2 separate regions of the Homo sapiens genome follow, and region 1 is linked to region 2. Evidence: fine-mapped expression QTL. Tissue or cell type: nasal epithelium. Region 2 holds a variant in brackets; the other region holds the start of a gene. All regions are shown on one strand. Distances are from middle to middle.

The links. PIP is the estimated chance that this variant, and not a neighbour inherited with it, causes the effect.
Region 1: TMEM223 starts here. The variant in region 2 is fine-mapped to the expression of TMEM223 in nasal epithelium (TOPMed, PIP 0.97).

What each region holds. Positions count from the first base shown.
Region 1 is chr11:62,790,378-62,794,377 of GRCh38, reverse strand. It overlaps TMEM223 (transmembrane protein 223), which reads left to right and starts at 2,372. Exons shown (of 2, transcript NM_001080501.3): 1 at 2,372-2,699; 2 at 3,463-4,000. The coding sequence starts at 2,384. The coding sequence ends at 3,755. TMEM179B (transmembrane protein 179B) reads right to left here. Exons shown (of 5, transcript NM_199337.3): 5 at 3,978-4,000. NXF1 (nuclear RNA export factor 1) reads left to right here. Exons shown (of 21, transcript NM_006362.5): 19 at 1-120; 20 at 1,677-1,737; 21 at 1,864-2,248. The coding sequence ends at 1,902. It overlaps MIR6514 (microRNA 6514), which reads left to right and starts at 1,607; the gene lies at 1,607-1,676. RefSeq lists a silencer at 2,243-2,392 and an enhancer at 2,463-2,972.
Region 2 is chr11:62,882,420-62,886,675 of GRCh38, reverse strand. SLC3A2 (solute carrier family 3 member 2) reads right to left here. Exons shown (of 9, transcript NM_001013251.3): 3 at 3,677-3,768; 4 at 2,151-2,219; 5 at 1,986-2,044; 6 at 1,319-1,499; 7 at 1,068-1,211. Among named protein-coding and RNA genes, the nearest start is that of SLC3A2, 3.7 kb to the right of the region's middle. The variant T/C (reference allele first, on the strand shown) is at 2,085.

The sequences.
Region 1 (4,000 bases), 92 kb after region 2:
CTTCGCTATGCCTGCACCCACGCCTTCCTCCAGCCCGGTGCCCACCCTCTCTCCAGAGCAGCAGGAAATGTTGCAAGCATTCTCTACCCAGTCTGGCATGAACCTCGAGTGGTCCCAGAAGTGAGTGCGGGGCATGTGTAGGATGGGGATGCACTGAAGTAGGGCTAGTAGTAAATAATGAGGGCTCCTGACAGTTTTTTTGTTTTTTTTTTGGAGACAAGTTCTTGCGCTGTCATCCAGGCTGGAGTATAGTGGTGATCATAACTCACTGTAGCCTCTAATTCCTGGGCACAAGCTGTCCTCCCACCTCAGCCTCCAGAGTAGCTGGGCCTATAGGCATGTGCCACCTTATTTTATTTTATTATTTTTTTTTTTTGGAGGTGGAGTCTTGCTATGTTGCCCAGGCTGGAGTGCAGTGGTGCGATCTTGGCTCATTGTAACCTCTGCCTCCCGGGTTCAAGCAATTCTCCAATCTCAGCCTCCCGAGTAGCTGGGATTACAGGCACACACCACCATGCCTGGCTAATTTTTGTATTTTTTTTTTTTTTTTTTTTTTTTAGTAGAGACGGGCTTTCATCATGTTGGCCAGGCTGGTCTCGAACTCCTGACCTTGTGATCTGCCTACCTCGGCCTCCCAAAGTGCTGGGATTACAGGCATGAGGCACTGCACCCAGCCAAATTTTTATTTGCTTGTTTGTTTTGAGACAGGGTCTCACTCTGATGCCCAGGCTGGAGTACAGTGGTGTGATCACAGTTCACTGCAGCCTCAACTGCTAGGGCTCAGGTGATTCTCCCACCTCAGCCACCTGAGTAGCTGGGACTACAGGCATAGGCCACAGCACCTGGCTAATTTTTTTGTATTTCTTTGCAGAGATGGGGTTTCACCATGTTGCCCACCTAGGCCTCCCAAAGTGCTGCGGTTATAGGTGTGAGTTACTGTGCCTGGGCTCCTGAAATTTTAAAAGGCAAAACTTTTGGCTGCTTAAAAAAACCTAATAGTTGGCTGGGAGAGGTGGCTCACACCTGTAATCCCAGCACTTTGGGAGGCTGAGGCGGCCAGATCACGAGGTCAAGAGATCAAGACCATCCTGGACAACATGGTGAAATCTCGTCTCTACTAAAAATACAAAAATTAGCGGGGCTTGGCGTTCCACGCCTGTAGTCCCAACTACTCGGGAGGCTGAGGCAGGAGAATTGCTTGAACCTGGAAGGCGGAGGTTGCAGTGAGCCGAGATCACGCCACTGCACTCCAGCCTGGTGACAGAGCAAGACTCGGTCTCAAAAAAAAAAAAAAAGCAAACAGAAAAACACAAACCTGATAGTCTATAAAAAATTTGCCTGTGTATAAATTAACATAAAAAACTTTAAAGGTAAAATGGAAGTTCCTTTTCATATACTGTTCTGCAACTTAGTTTCTTTACTTACACCATGAACATCTTTCCCTACCACTGTAAAAACTATCTTGAGCTTCTTGACAGCTATTTAATATTCCTTATCTTTGAGAAGCCATTGGTAGAACATCTGGACTTTTACTAATGTCTCATTTGTATAAATAGTGCAAGGATGTATAAGAATGTACATATTTGTTGGCAAACTTGGGTGCTTTTATGGAGTGGACTTTCAGCTGGCATTTACGAGTCAGAGTTCTTACAGAGCTGCCTGTTCTTCCACTCCAGGTGCCTTCAGGACAACAACTGGGACTACACCAGATCTGCCCAGGCCTTCACTCATCTCAAGGTAAGGTCTGGAAATACAGTGGCAAAAAGACTAGGATCTCTGGGCCTCCAGGAGGTCAGGTTAGCTGAGTGGGGTTGCTGAGTGGCGAGGGTAGGCCTACCTCTACTGACCTTCATTTTTCTCCAGGCCAAGGGCGAGATCCCAGAAGTGGCATTCATGAAGTGATCGTAGTCATGCCTCAGAAGCAGTCCCCCCTGTAAATAGTCCTTGGATATTACCGTCTGGTTGTCGTCTGTCATCTCCTCCTGTCTGGCCCGAGGCCGCCCCGTGACTGTGACCGAGGGAGGGAGGGCTGCCTGATCCCTCTCCTCGCCTGCCTTCTGGAAGACTTCAGAAGATTGAGCCTCACTGGTGCCAGGAAGCCAAAGCTTACTTTGTAGAACTGACACTAAACTACCCGAAGGACTTAGGTGCTTTGTGTACTTAACCCCAGGACCTCCTTACTTTTTAATATAAAGAGTGATGTTGTATTTCGTGTTCTGCACTTTTTAATATAAAGAGTGATGTTGTATTTCGTGTTCTGCGTGCTGGATTGGTTGTCTCCTCCCAGCCCTGAGCGAGGGGGGCGGGCCCTCTAGCGGGGGCGCCCAGGGAGGGCGGAAGGCGGCTCTGCGGCAGGAAGCCCCACCCCGGAAGTCGGCTGGCCATGGCGGCGCCTTGGAGGCGATGGCCCACGGGGCTGCTAGCCGTGCTGCGGCCCCTGCTCACCTGCCGGCCCCTGCAAGGCACGACGCTGCAACGGGATGTGCTGCTCTTTGAGCATGATCGGGGCCGCTTCTTCACCATCCTCGGGCTGTTCTGCGCGGGCCAGGGCGTCTTCTGGGCTTCCATGGCTGTGGCAGCCGTGTCCCGGCCCCCGGTTCCGGTGCAGCCTCTGGATGCGGAGGTCCCAAATCGTGGCCCCTTCGACCTGCGCTCCGCGCTCTGGCGCTACGGTCTGGCCGTCGGCTGCGGCGCCATCGGTAAGACGTGGGCTGGCTTCCCACTGTGACAACGTGGGGTGGCGGGACACGACCTTCCCTATACAGGCAGGGAGAGTCAGGGACTCCCTATCCGAGAGTGGCGGGCGGGCTTTACCCCACAGAAATGTGAAACACTGGCCGGGCGCGGCGGCTCAAATGCTGGGAGGCCGGAGGCGGGCGGATCACTAGGTCAGGACATCCAGACCATCCTGGCTAACACCGTCAAACCCTGTGTCTACTAAAAATACAAAAAATTAGCTGGGCGTGGTAGCAAGCGCCTGTAGTCCCAGCTACTCGGGAGGCTGAGGCAGGAGAATCAATTGAACCTGGGAGGCGGAGGTTGCAGTGAGCCGAGATGACGCCACTGCACTCCAGCCTAAGCGACCGAGCGAGACTCCCCTCTCAAAAAAAAAAATTGGGAAACAGTGATGTCTCCGAGCGCCGTGCCCTGTCATAGCCTAGGCTGAGGGCTGCCCTTCACTCTGCGACCTTGAGCAAGGTCCTTAAAGCTCTCCATCTTCCCATTAAAATGGAAACGGACATCTATTAAGGTTGTTGGGAGGAATAACAAGATTACTGGGTATAACAGGAGCTCAGTACTGCACTCCAGCCTGGCCGGCAGAGTGAGACTCAGTCTCAAAAAAAAAAGCGCTCAGTAAATACTACTTTCATCCCACAAATTTCTTATTCAGAGGGCACTGGAAAGGTCGGTACTTAGATGCCCAGTGAAAACCCCTCACCCCAATCTCTGCCCTGCCTGCAGGAGCCCTCGTACTCGGTGCTGGTCTTCTCTTCTCTCTCCGGTCTGTGCGCTCAGTGGTGCTTCGAGCTGGAGGGCAGCAGGTGACCCTCACCACTCATGCCCCCTTTGGCTTGGGGGCCCATTTCACAGTTCCTTTGAAGCAGGTATCTTGCATGGCCCACCGGGGTGAAGTCCCTGCCATGCTACCTCTGAAAGTCAAAGGCCGACGCTTCTATTTCCTCTTGGACAAAACTGGACACTTCCCTAACACAAAACTCTTTGACAATACTGTGGGTGCCTACCGGAGCTTGTGAAGAAATGACCTCAAGTCACTCACCTCTCCAAGAGGAGGATAAAAACTGAACCTTGGGGAGCCAGGTGTGTTGGTTCACACCTGTTGTAATCCCAGCACTTTGGGAGGGTGAGGCAGGAGCACTGCTCGAGCCCAGGCTGGGCAACATAGCGAGACCTTGTCTCTATTTACAAAAAAAAAAACAAAAAAAAACGCCAATCTTAGAATGGAGTAACAACCAGGGTCACACAAGGAGGTCAAGATTCA
Region 2 (4,256 bases):
AGAGGTTGCAGTGAGACATAATCGCACCACTGCAATCCAGCCAGATCAACAGAGCAAGAACCTGTCTCCAAAAAAAAAAAAGATCAGCTGGGCATGATGGCACGCACCTATCTATGGTACATATCCCAGCTACTCAGGAGGCTGAGGTGGGATGATCACTTCGGCCTGGGAGGCGGAGGCTGCAATGAACCAAGATCATGCCACTGCACTCCAGCCTGGGCGACATAGGGAAATGCTGTCTTAAAAACAAAAACAAAAAACAAACAAACAAACAAAAAAAAAAAGTCGGGGATCAACAGTAACCCTGTATCTAAAGCTAGTGAATGCCTTTGTAGTAGTATCCCTACCATGTATTTCTTTCTTTCTTTTCTTTTCTTTTTTTTTTTGGAGAAGGAGTCTCCCTCTGCCGCCCAGGCTAAAGTGCAGTGGCACAATCTCAGTTCACTGCAACCTCTGCCTCCAGGTTCAAGCGATTCTCTTGCCTCAGCCTCCCCAGTAGCTGGGACTACAGGCGTGCACCACCACACCTGGCTAATTTTTGTATTTTTAGTAGAGACTGGGTTTCACCCTGTTGGCTAGGCTGGTTTCGAACTCCTTACCTCCAGTGATCCACCCACCTTGGACTCCCAAAGTGCTAGGATTACAGGCATGAGCCACCGTGCCCAGCCACTGCCATGTACTTCTCCACTTATTTATCTGGCTCCCTCACTAAACTATGAGCTCCTGAGGGCACAGAGCCTAGCACAGTACCCACTGTCCAAAGAATAAAGGAATGAATAAATGAATGGTGGCTACCATAGCAAACATCTGCCAGGTACCAGGCATTACCATTAAAAACATGCCCTCATTTAATACTAACCACCCTTCAAGAAATGCAGTAACACAAGGGATGACCAAAATTCAGAAAGGTAAAATAATTTGCCCAAAGCCACATAGCCACTCAGCTACTGACTAAGAATCAAACGCGTTTTCACCCCAAGGCTCACGTCTATGTGCCGCCATCCCCAGAATCATCATTGTAAGATGGATAAACAACCTCCCTGTGACAGAAAGACAGCAAGCAGTACCTGTCCAGGAAGGGCAGCTGCATCCAGGCCAATCTCATCCCCGTAGCTGAAAACAGGGGTCCCTGGCAGGGTGAAGAGCATCAGCTGGTAGAGTCGGAGAAGTTGAGCCGGCAAGAAGGAAGTCAGGAGCCTTGCCTGAGACAACTACAGGGAGAGACACTCCAGTGAGCCCCATAACCCACCTCTGCCTCTGTCTCCCAACAACCCTTTCTTCTCCCATCTGCCCCCTTTCCCACCAGCATGGTACTCACACTCCAGCTGCACCAGCGATTGCCAGTGGCATTCAAATACTGTGTGACTAGGGATTTTGTATGCTCCCCAGTAGAACCAGAATCAGACAGGTATGAGCTAGTCAACAGCAAGTCTTTGTTGGATTCGAGTAGGCTCAGGATCTGCTGAAGGTCGGAGGAGTTAGTCCCCGCAATCAAGAGCCTGCAGAGGGGAGGGAGGAGTTCAAGGTTAGCACAAGAAAGAATGGGGCCAGGCGCAGTGGCTCACGCCTGTAATCCCAACACTTTGGGAGGCTGAGGCGGGTGGATCACTTGAGGTCAGGAGTTCGAGACTGGCTTGACCAACATGGAGAAACCCCGTCTCTACTAAAAATACAAAATTAGCCAGGTGTGGTGGCCCGCGTCTGTAATCCCAGCTACTTGGGATGCTGAGGCAGGAGAATCGCTTGAACCCAGGAGGCAGAGGTTGCAGTGAGCCAAGATCACGCCATCGCACCCCAGCCTGGGCAAAAAGAGCGGAACTCCATCTCAAAAAAAAAAAAAAAAAAAAAAAAAAAAAAAAAAAGCTAAAGAAAGAATAAAGGTAAAGAAAATGCTCTAGACTAGGAATCCCCCCTTCTTAGGCCTAGCACTCCACTGAGGGGTTCCCACATTGGAGCTGAGTCAGCAGAATGGCTCCTGCACCCACCTGTCTTCACTGAAGCCCTTGGTGATATTTTGCCACTCAGCCAAGAATGAGGATGCATCCTAGAAAGAAAAAAGCAGAATCAAGGACCAGAGAATATTA[T/C]GAGGCTCTAGCTGAGTCCCTCTGTTCTCGCCCAAGCTTTGTCCCTAATGTGGAAAGGGAACTCACCTTCAGATTCTCTATGTCCCGAACCTGGAACCCATCCACGCCAGCTTGCAGCCAAAACTCCAGAGCATCCTATAGGGGGCAGAAGAATAAAGGACAGACATCAGTTCTCAGGAAAAGGCTCAGAAAATTCCAGCCCACACTAAACCTCACCCACCACACACTTCCCCGGGAGCTGGGGAGAGTCCTGTGCCTTGCCTGGGTCTTCCCCACCTGCACTACAAAGGCTTAGCCTTTGGACCCCTCCAGCTCTACCCTTCCACTCATTTTCTTAGTGCTACAGCATTTTACTTCTCATTCTTGCCTCTGGCAAATCACACAGCTTCAACTTTGAAAGCCACAGAAAAGGCCCCAGAGAAAAGGTATGTCCATAAACATAACTTCGTTTAACACTTAGCATTGGAATGTTAGCATACCTATTTTAGAGATGAAGAAACAGACCCAGAGAAGCAGGGAGACGCGTCCACAGTCATAATCAGTGAGCAGCAGACAGGATCTAAAATGTCAGTCAAGATCCCCCCTCTCCCAGTTTCCTGAGGCCTGGGGAAGGTGTGAGTACAATAACTGCTCAGAGCAAGGCCAAGGATGAAAGATTGAAATTCAAAGCATAGCCCCAGGGCAGTTTAGATTTGAAAAGAGGCCAGTGCTGCTGAATGGAATCCTGGCAGTCCTGCACACACTGTGGAACTTCACCCCCATTCTCCTTTTCTTCCCTTTCTCTGGGCCATGTACTCTCTCCTCTGGTCTCCATTTCCATCTGAGGGTACCGCCCCTCATGCCAAACCATCCAAAAACATTCCCTCATCAGCAACTTTTAAAGGGTCCCCTAGTAACTGGCAAGGCCTAAACTGGATGATCCCGGGGTCCTACCCAAATGCTGGGAGTCCAGAATTCTATCTTAGAATCACAGCTACCAGCAGTGTCAGTATCTGCTTCCATTTTTGTTCTACCCATTCTGAACAGGTCAGTGTCCTAGGACCCAGACATCAGGAGCTAGGTGACATTCAAAGCCCTACTCCTAGCCTGCTGGGTACACATTTGAACCTATGGCAAATTATATACCTTGTATGGTTATACAGAGAATTAGAAAACATCTATAAAATACTTGGCATAGAGTCCCAGACACATAGGAGTACCCCAGTGCTTATAATTTCAGACTGGGCTCTATTCCAAACACATCAAACAAGAACTGGGAAACCAGTCAGGACAGGATTCTCACAGAGAAAGGGCTTCCTCTCCCAAAAGAAAGAAAAATCAAACTTCCAGACTGACTTCTGAGAAGGTCCCTTCCTGGCACTGTCTCATCCTCAGAGTCAAGGAAATAAGAAAAATAAGAGGTCAGAAAAGGAACAAGAAAAACAGGTGTGCTATTGGCCTATCCTTTGGCTATAGGAGGAGGCATTCCTCCTTGGTCCTAAGGAGCAAAGGGACCCTCAGCTGGAGTCAGGCTGGGTCTACAGGGCTTGCTGTGAAAGGACTGTCCCAGCCCCAGCATCTGACTTCCACCAGCCATCAGCTCCAACACTCACCTTCACCTTGGTGGCCACAGTGTCAACCTGAGTGGAGAACCACGAGTTCTCACCCCGGTAGTTGGGAGTAAGGTCCAGAATGACACGGATGCCTAAAACAACGGAGGAAGACGCAATCATGAGACAGTCTATGAGTTAAGGGAAAATAAGGAAATCACAAATGCAAGTCACTGAGTGTTTCCTATGTATTACTTGGTACAAAAGCTTGAATTTGAACCCGGGCAAAATTCATTCCATTGAAACAGATGTGAGCAAGGAAGGGCCTTAAGATATGGGAAGGCAGGCCAGGCGAGTTCAAAACCAGACCGGTCAACATGTTGAAAATTGTCTCTACTAAAAATAAAAAAATTATCTGGGTGTGGTGGCACACGGCTGTAGTACCAGCTACTCAGGAGGCTGAGGCACGAGAATCGCTTGAACCCTGGGGGAGGAGGCTGCAGTAAGCTGAGATCGTTCCACTGCACTGCAGCCTGGGTGACAAGAGTGAGACTCCATCTCAAAAAAAAAAAAAGATATTGGAAGGCAGAAAGTTTATAGTGCAGAGAAGTGGCCCCTGTGTTCCCCACTCCCAAAGTGAACC